Homo sapiens: one gene and its partner. The protein of the gene in region 2 interacts with the protein of the main gene of each other region in a pairwise test. Each region holds a gene or a part of one and is shown on either strand. Other genes may lie near its edges.

What was found. Proteins that work in one complex are often made in the same cells at the same time.
Region 1: the proteins of SPTAN1 (region 2) and ZNF333 interact in a two-hybrid assay, tested with the Homo sapiens proteins (one study listed by BioGRID).

The regions. Positions count from the first base shown.
Region 1 is NC_000019.10:14,693,021-14,696,769, forward strand, and holds part of ZNF333 (zinc finger protein 333), read left to right. Parts: intron 1-430; 5' UTR 431-471; coding exon 472-474; intron 475-1,989; coding exon 1,990-2,113; intron 2,114-2,545; coding exon 2,546-2,641; intron 2,642-3,749. UniProt on the Homo sapiens protein: May be involved in transcriptional regulation.
Region 2 is NC_000009.12:128,576,438-128,580,186, reverse strand, and holds part of SPTAN1 (spectrin alpha chain, non-erythrocytic 1), read right to left. Parts: intron 3,365-3,749; coding exon 3,231-3,364; intron 3,059-3,230; coding exon 2,914-3,058; intron 2,836-2,913; coding exon 2,681-2,835; intron 2,078-2,680; coding exon 1,942-2,077; intron 551-1,941; coding exon 449-550; intron 1-448. UniProt on the Homo sapiens protein: Fodrin, which seems to be involved in secretion, interacts with calmodulin in a calcium-dependent manner and is thus candidate for the calcium-dependent movement of the cytoskeleton at the membrane.

The DNA.
Region 1 (3,749 bases), on a different chromosome or scaffold from region 2:
TTCACCATATTGGCCAGGCTGGTTTCAAATTCCTGACCTCAAGTGATCCACCCACCTTGGCCTCCAGCCTGAGCAACAGAGTGAGACTCAAAAAAAAAGGTTTACATCACAGTTGGAGAGAGAGAGGCCAAAATCGTTTAAGAAATAAATATCAAATCACACCTTCATATGGGCAGTGGAGGAAAAGTAGAAGATCTTAGAAGTATTTTGAGGGAAGCTAGAAGTTAAAATGTTCCTTTGATGACATGGGAAGAGTCAGTAGCAGTCACTAGAGGCTGTTGTTTGAAAGGTGCCTTGGGGGCCAACATGTTGCTTATGGAGATAAATGTCCTGTAAGGGTTTTGATTGTGACCACTCTGCTGGAGATCCCCCAAAATGCTCTGCTTCCGTCCTCACCCCTTCTTTTACCTCAGTGTCTCCTTTATTGCAGGGAGAACACCGACTGAGACCTCAAACCCTGGCTCCAGTGTCATGGTGAGGAAACTGGGGGCTCCTGTGGCTGAAGGGGTGGATATGTAGGATAACTATGTCCTCTGGGCCCTGTCTTCTCTCTCGCCACTTCCGTCCCCAACTGAGGAAGAAAGGGAAGGGTGAGTGAGGAGCATCCTCATCCCTGCCCTAGGGGACCTAGGGACTTCCTTCTGTGCCTGACCTCTAGAGGTGGCATGGAAGAAGAGTCCCACAGCAGACCCTGGGGCTCTGAGCGGAGCTCCTCCAGGGCCATCCTTGTCATCCCTGGTGAGACCTATTGAAAACACATGTGGCCATAGAAATATAAATTCAGCTTAAATTAATTAAGATTCAGTACATTTAGCCGGGCATGGTTGTGTGTGCCTGGAATCGCAGCTACTTGGGAGGTTGAGGTGGGAGGATAGCTTGAGCCCAGGAGATTGAGGCTGCATTGAGCTAGGATTGTGACCCTGCACTCCAGCCTAAGCTACAGAGTAAAACCTTGTCTCTAAAAAAAAAAAAAAAAAAAAAAAAATTAAAAAGTTTAAGCGCTCAGTTTCTCAGTCGCCCCAGTCACATTGCCCAAGTGCTCAACAGCCACATGTGCTGGTAGCCCCTTTCTGGAAAGCACAGGCATGGAACATTCCCATCATCAGAGAGTGATGTCTGTTGGACAGCACTGCTCTGAAGAATTCTGCAATTAAAAGGATTCTCAGATGAGGCCGGGCGTGGTGGCTCATGCCTGTAATCCCAGCACTTTGGGAGGCCGAGGCGGGCAGATCACTTGAGGCTGGGAGTTCAAGACCAGCCTGGCCAACATGGTGAAACTCTGTCTCTACTAAAAATACAAAAAGTTAGCTGGGTGTGTGGCACGTGCCTGTAATCCCAGCTACTTGGGAGGCTGAGGTAGGAAAATCGCTTGAACCCAGGAGGTGAAGGTTGCAGTGAGCCGAGATGGCGCCACTGCACTCCAGCCTGGACGACAGAGCAAGACTGTCTCAAAAAAAAAAAAGAAAAAAAGAAAAAGACTCTCAGATGCAATGGAAGTCCTACTTTCACAAGTATATAATTAAGGACGTAAGTCTTGGGGGATCCCAGGGACTTCACAGAAATTAAGCTTTCAATCCCAAATTTGTGATGCTGTGCCAATTTGTAATAAGGAGTTTAGGAAAAACTCTCTAAGCAGGGAGGGACAGGCTCTGCCATCACAAGTCAGTGGAGTTACACAGAGAGCCATAACTTTACACTTTAGGATTTATCCAAATGTTAAAAGAAAGTAAACATTTCAGCTTGGTGGCCCATGTGATCTCTGTCACAACTATTCAGTTCTGCCGTTGTGGCCTCAAAACAGCCATTGATGCATTGTAAATAAATGCACGTGGCTGTGTGCCAAGAAAACATTATTTACAAAAATAGGCTTTAGGCTGGATTTTCCATGCCTGCTGTGTCTGAACATTTTCTCTTCTCCAGTGATAACCAGTCGTTCTGCTCAGTGGTGGGGGTGGTATTTGCCGAGCCAGAATGTGTGTGCTGTTTTAGGAATCCGTCACCTTTGAGGATGTGGCCGTGGAGTTCATCCAGGAGTGGGCATTGCTGGACAGCGCACGGAGGAGCCTGTGCAAATACAGGATGCTTGACCAGTGCAGGACCCTGGCCTCCAGGGGTAAGGCTGGCGTCACCTGGCTCCTTCCTGTACGCAGGCACTAAATGCTTCTTAAGCGCCTGCCATGTGAAGAAGACAGACGTGGCTTAGGCTTTGTGGCACTTAGCGTCCACAGGATGACAAAGCTTCATCTGTTGCATTGACTTCTTTCCCTCTGTAGTAAGGCCCTGTTTGGGTCTCCTTGAATTTGGCCCCAGGCTTCTGAGGTGAGACAGCCTCAGCCCCTTGGGGCAGAGGGGAGGGTGTTTGTGGGTTGGGTCCTGAGTTCATTAGCTATTGGGCAAGATCCCTTTGCTACCCATCACACTTGCTCAGCCCAGAGAATCTGAAGCCCATATTGAAGCTGAAGGAGAGTTTGAGTTGAGAAACAAGAGTTTGTTTTCCCCTGCAAGCCCTCTCTCTCTCAGTGCCTGTGTCTTTCTTCATGTGCAGGAACTCCACCATGCAAACCCAGTTGTGTCTCCCAGCTGGGGCAAAGAGCAGAGCCAAAGGCAACAGAACGAGGGATTCTCCGTGCCACAGGTGTTGGTGAGTACCAGGCAGGCTGTGGATCCCCCGACCCCCCTGGTTGGGTGGTGTGCCTTGGGAAGTGTCAAGAGCATTTTCAAAGGCCCTTTGTTCTGAGGGGACATCGAAGGCCATTCGGAGTGAGGTTTCTCAAGTTCCTTTAGCTTCTCTTCTATTTTCACTTTCTAGCCCTCCTCTCCTACTTTCCTTTGGTTTCAGAAAAAGATTTGTTCTAATTTCTCTTAAAAAATTAGAGGGCCAGGTGTGGTGGCTCTTGCATGTAATCCCAGCACTTTGGGAGGCCGAGGCTGGTGGATCACCTGAGGTCAGGAGTTCGAGACCAGCCTGGCCAACATGGCAAAACCCCATCTCTACCAAAAATTAGCCGGATGTGATGGTGCACACCTGTAATCCCAGCTACTTGGGAGGCTGAGGCATGAGAATTGCTTGAACCTGGGAGGTAGAAGTTGCAGTGAGCCAAGATTGCATCACTGCACTCCAGCCTGGGGGATAGAGCGAGACTCTGTCTCCAAAAAACAAAACAAAGCAAAAATTAGAGCTATAAGTCACACACCATGAAATTCACCCCTTTAAAGTGTGCAGTTCAGTGGTTCACAACCTTGTGTAAACATCACCACTACCCAATTCCAGAACATTTTCATCACGCCAAGTAGAAACCCTGTCCCCATGGGCAGTTACTCCCCATTACCCCTCCCTCAGCCCCTGGCAGCCACTAATCTGCTTTCTGTCTCTATGGATTGTCCTATATAGACATTTGTATATGGAAATCGTATCATAAGTAGCCTTTGGTATCCGGCTTAGTATAATAGTTTTGTGTTGCAAGTAAGTTAGACTGGGTAGTTTATAAACAATAGAAGTTTATTTGACTCCTGGTTCTGGAGGCTGGGAAGTCTAAGGCTGAGGGGCTGCATCTGGTAAGGGCCTTCTTGCAGCATCATAACATGGTGGACGAGATCATGTTGCAAGAGAACAAGAGAGGCCCAGACTGGTTTTTACAGCAAGGCCACTCTTGAGATAACTAACCCCCTTCTGAAGTAATCACAGGGCAGATTCCTCGTGACCTAATCACCTTTTTTTTTTTTTTTTTTTTTTTTTGGGACAGAGTCTC
Region 2 (3,749 bases):
ATGTGCCACCATGTCTGGCTAATTTATTAATTTTTTGTCCAGATGGGGGTCTCACTATGTTGTTCAGGATGGTCTCCCATTCCTGGCCTCAAGCAATCCTCCTGCCTTGGCCTCTGAAAGTGCTGGGGTCACACCACACCTGGCCTATGTATCATTTTATAAAAATTTGTTTCCTCTTTGCTCCAACTCCTAATGCAAGACTCAGCTCCCTACAGAAAGTCCCTGTAAGTAGGAAACATGCCACACATGCCCCAGATAAGGAGGACTGTCTCTCAGGAAATCAGCACACTATACATATACCTTCTTTTTAAACCTCTGCAGAGAAAGGAAAGTTTCTCACATATCATGGTGAATGCGTTCTCTGGATATTTAAGGATGAATAATAGCTTTCAGAGACTTAGTGAAAGGTGTAATTTGCTCCTCAAAAGCTCCATTTCTCTTCTCTTACCTTCTCCCTCACTTCATCTGAGGCATAGTGACCAGCAGCAAGCAGTGCCTGTCCAGATTCATCTGCAGATTTGAAGCTGTCTTCATGGGCATCAATTTCACCCTACAGGAGAAAAAAACAAAGCCATGATTTGTGCCCAGCATCTTACAAAATAAAAACAAGGTGCTGAATTTTACATAAGCATTATAAGCCAGACTATGACATCTAAAATGAGAAACAAAATGAAAGATTAGGCCAGATTTCCTAATACATAATCAGTCTAGGTCATCAAATGTGAGAGTATCACTCACTGATGAAATCCTTTCCAAATGGCTTTTCAGGTCACCTGTCATTTGTCAAGGTTCCACACATTCACATGGGTCTGAGCTCTCTTTCATTCCAGGGCTCTGTCTTCTTTGTGCCAAATGGACTTGTTTACTATGATTTTATAGAACCTGGTAGGGCGAGTCCCTCCCTGGCCCCATTATGATCTTCAACATTGTCTCAGCTTTTTTTGAATTTTTTTCTTCCAAATCAGTTTTGGAATCAGCTTATCTCATTGCAAAAAGAAACACACACATATACCTGCTGAGCACTTGACTGGAACTGCATTAACGGTATATATCCTGGTGGGAATTTACACCTTCACAGAAGATCGTTCCATCTGTGTACTAGATAAATCATTCTATCTATTCAGTTTTTATTTAATGCCTTTTAACAAAGTTTTATAGTTTTCTCCAGAAGTGTCTTACACTCTTTTGTTAGACTTATTCCTAAGTACTTTATATTTTCTGCTCTAATAAGTAGTATTTTTAAAAATTATGTTTCTGTTGCTAGTGTAGAGAAACATGTTTGACTTTCAGTATATTGATTTTGTATCTAGCACATTAAAACCTCTCAGAAGGTTTTTTTTTTTTTTTTTTTCTTTGAGACAGAGTGAAACACTCTTGTTGTCCGGACGGGAGTGGAATGGTGTGATCTTGGCTCACTGCAACCTCTGCCTCCCGGGTTCAAGCGATTCTCCTGCCTCAGACTCCTGAATAGCTGGGACTACAGGCGCGTGCCACCATGACCAGCTAACTGTTGCATTTTTAGTAGAGATGGGGTTTCACCATGTTGGCATGGATGGTCTTGATCTCTTGACCTCATGATCCACCCGCCTCAGCCTTCCAAAGTGCTGGGATTACAGACATAAGCCACCGTGCCTGGCCCAACAAATACTTTTTACATCACAAAGGATCAATGTGCCAAGTAGTAGCACTTCTATCTCGCCAGAGCTTGTCTGTTTGCTTTTATGGACCACAGTGAACCTCTTGACACTGAACCCAGTTAAGCCTCTATCAGAAGCAGGTAGACCAGGTCTCCAAAGGCAAAACCAACCATAATCCTCATGATGAGAAACACCTGTGAATAACATGGTACCAACGCCGACTATAGGCCTCACCCAACACTGATAAACTGGTGCATTATAAGCTAAAATCTTCACTTCTGGAAGATTCTAGAGATACCATTACCTTGTGCTCTTGGTGTCTATCTAGCAGGGCTTCAGCCCCAGCCACATCACTGGCAAGCTCATCTGCATTGATGAGGGCTTTCATCTCAGTCACCCAGCTGGTGAGGTCACGGAAGTCAGCAAGGAAGCGTTGAAGCCTAGGGAAAACCAAAGGAAGACATTATGTTTCCAGCGGAGGTTCCAGGGTGGAAAATGGCCTCCCTAAAGCTCTGAATTCTATGTTCTCAAATGTCTAACAAACTATATAAATTCTAATTCTGGGAAATATGAAAATTTCCCAATCTAGACTGTGAAGGAAAGCAAGAGAAGGCTGAAATCAACCCTTTAAAACTTAGGTTCTCTCCATCACTATAATGCCCCAATCCTGTCCCACATTTTCAACTTCCTTGTTATTCCCAGGTTCAACCCTTGGCTAGCAAGGATTCTTTTCCTTTCTAATCCTGGTTTTAATAAGATATTTCATGTGATACTCAGATACTTAAAGGGACATTCCCATTCTATCAATCATAATGCAGTGATGCAGAATAGAAGAATTTATGAAGTTGTAAATACCATACGTATACTACACATGATACAGTTGCCAGTCTCCAAACAGAGAGAACATAGGTAAGAAGTGATTTGCATTTGTAGGTGATACCTGACACTTTCACAGAACACAGAACAGACCCTTAACTCTGCTATTCCTGCTTCCAAAAAAGAAGCCAAATGATACTGGTTAAGACCTGGAGCATTATTTGCACCTGTATGAATCATTGAGCCGTGCATGTCTCTCTGCCGCCAAGGTGCGGATCTGCTCCCAGTTTGTAATCAGTTCCTCTCGCTTCACTTGAATCTGTGTTGCACTCAGAGGGTGGGACTGTTGCAGGCGGTCAGCCTCAGCACACAGGGCTTTGACCTAGAAATGAACTCCGTCAGAACTATTCTCCTGACCCTTGGTAACTTATTTACAGAATCAGCTGCTTGTAAAACCCACCTTGTCTTCTAGAGCAGCAAGATCTCTCTCCAGACCCTCGTGCTTCCGAAGCAGAGCCTGAACACTTGCCAGGTCTCGGCCAAAATCATCAGAGGCCATTAACTGCTCCTTTTCCTTAATCCAACTGATAGTCTCATCCACATCCCTACAGAACAAAGGCACCAGTTAATCCACAGCAATGATGACTCCCTAGAACTAGGAACACCCCATGGGACCAAGGCCTAGTCAGCCTCGACAGCTCACCAGCACATGCCCTGTGCTTCACAACTCCCCTCCAGGTTGAGACCCATTCCCCAAAGCCCACTCTGGCTTGACACCTGTTAAAGCGCTGAACTTCTGCTGCCCCAAAGAGCTTCCCCTGCCTCTGCAGAGCCAGGCCCTTCAGCCGCTGCCAGGCTGCATTGACTTCATCCTGCTTAGTCTTGATCAGTTCCTCCTCAGGGTGCTGCTCCTAAACAAGGAAGAGAAGAGACTGGATTTGTACACAACTTCTGGCTCCTCCAACTAGTTACCCTGGGGTTGGTTCCTTGAAGCATCTCAGCAAATCACCACTCTGAAGAGAATCACAAGAAATAATGGTCAACATGATACAAAGTGAACTACAACTCCAAAGAGTTTCTATTTCTTATGTAAAAAGGGGAGAGCCATTCTCTATCTTTTGGAGTAGTGTGGTTAGTCTATAAGGTGGTTATGTGCAAAAGTGCCAAAAACCTTTATGTTAATAAATAGTTTGGCAACAACTGTGTGGTAACTTTATCAATGTACTCATCTACCCTAACTGCTTGAAAATTTGGTATTTCAGATGTTCATGAGGCTGTTAAGCATTCTTGCACATA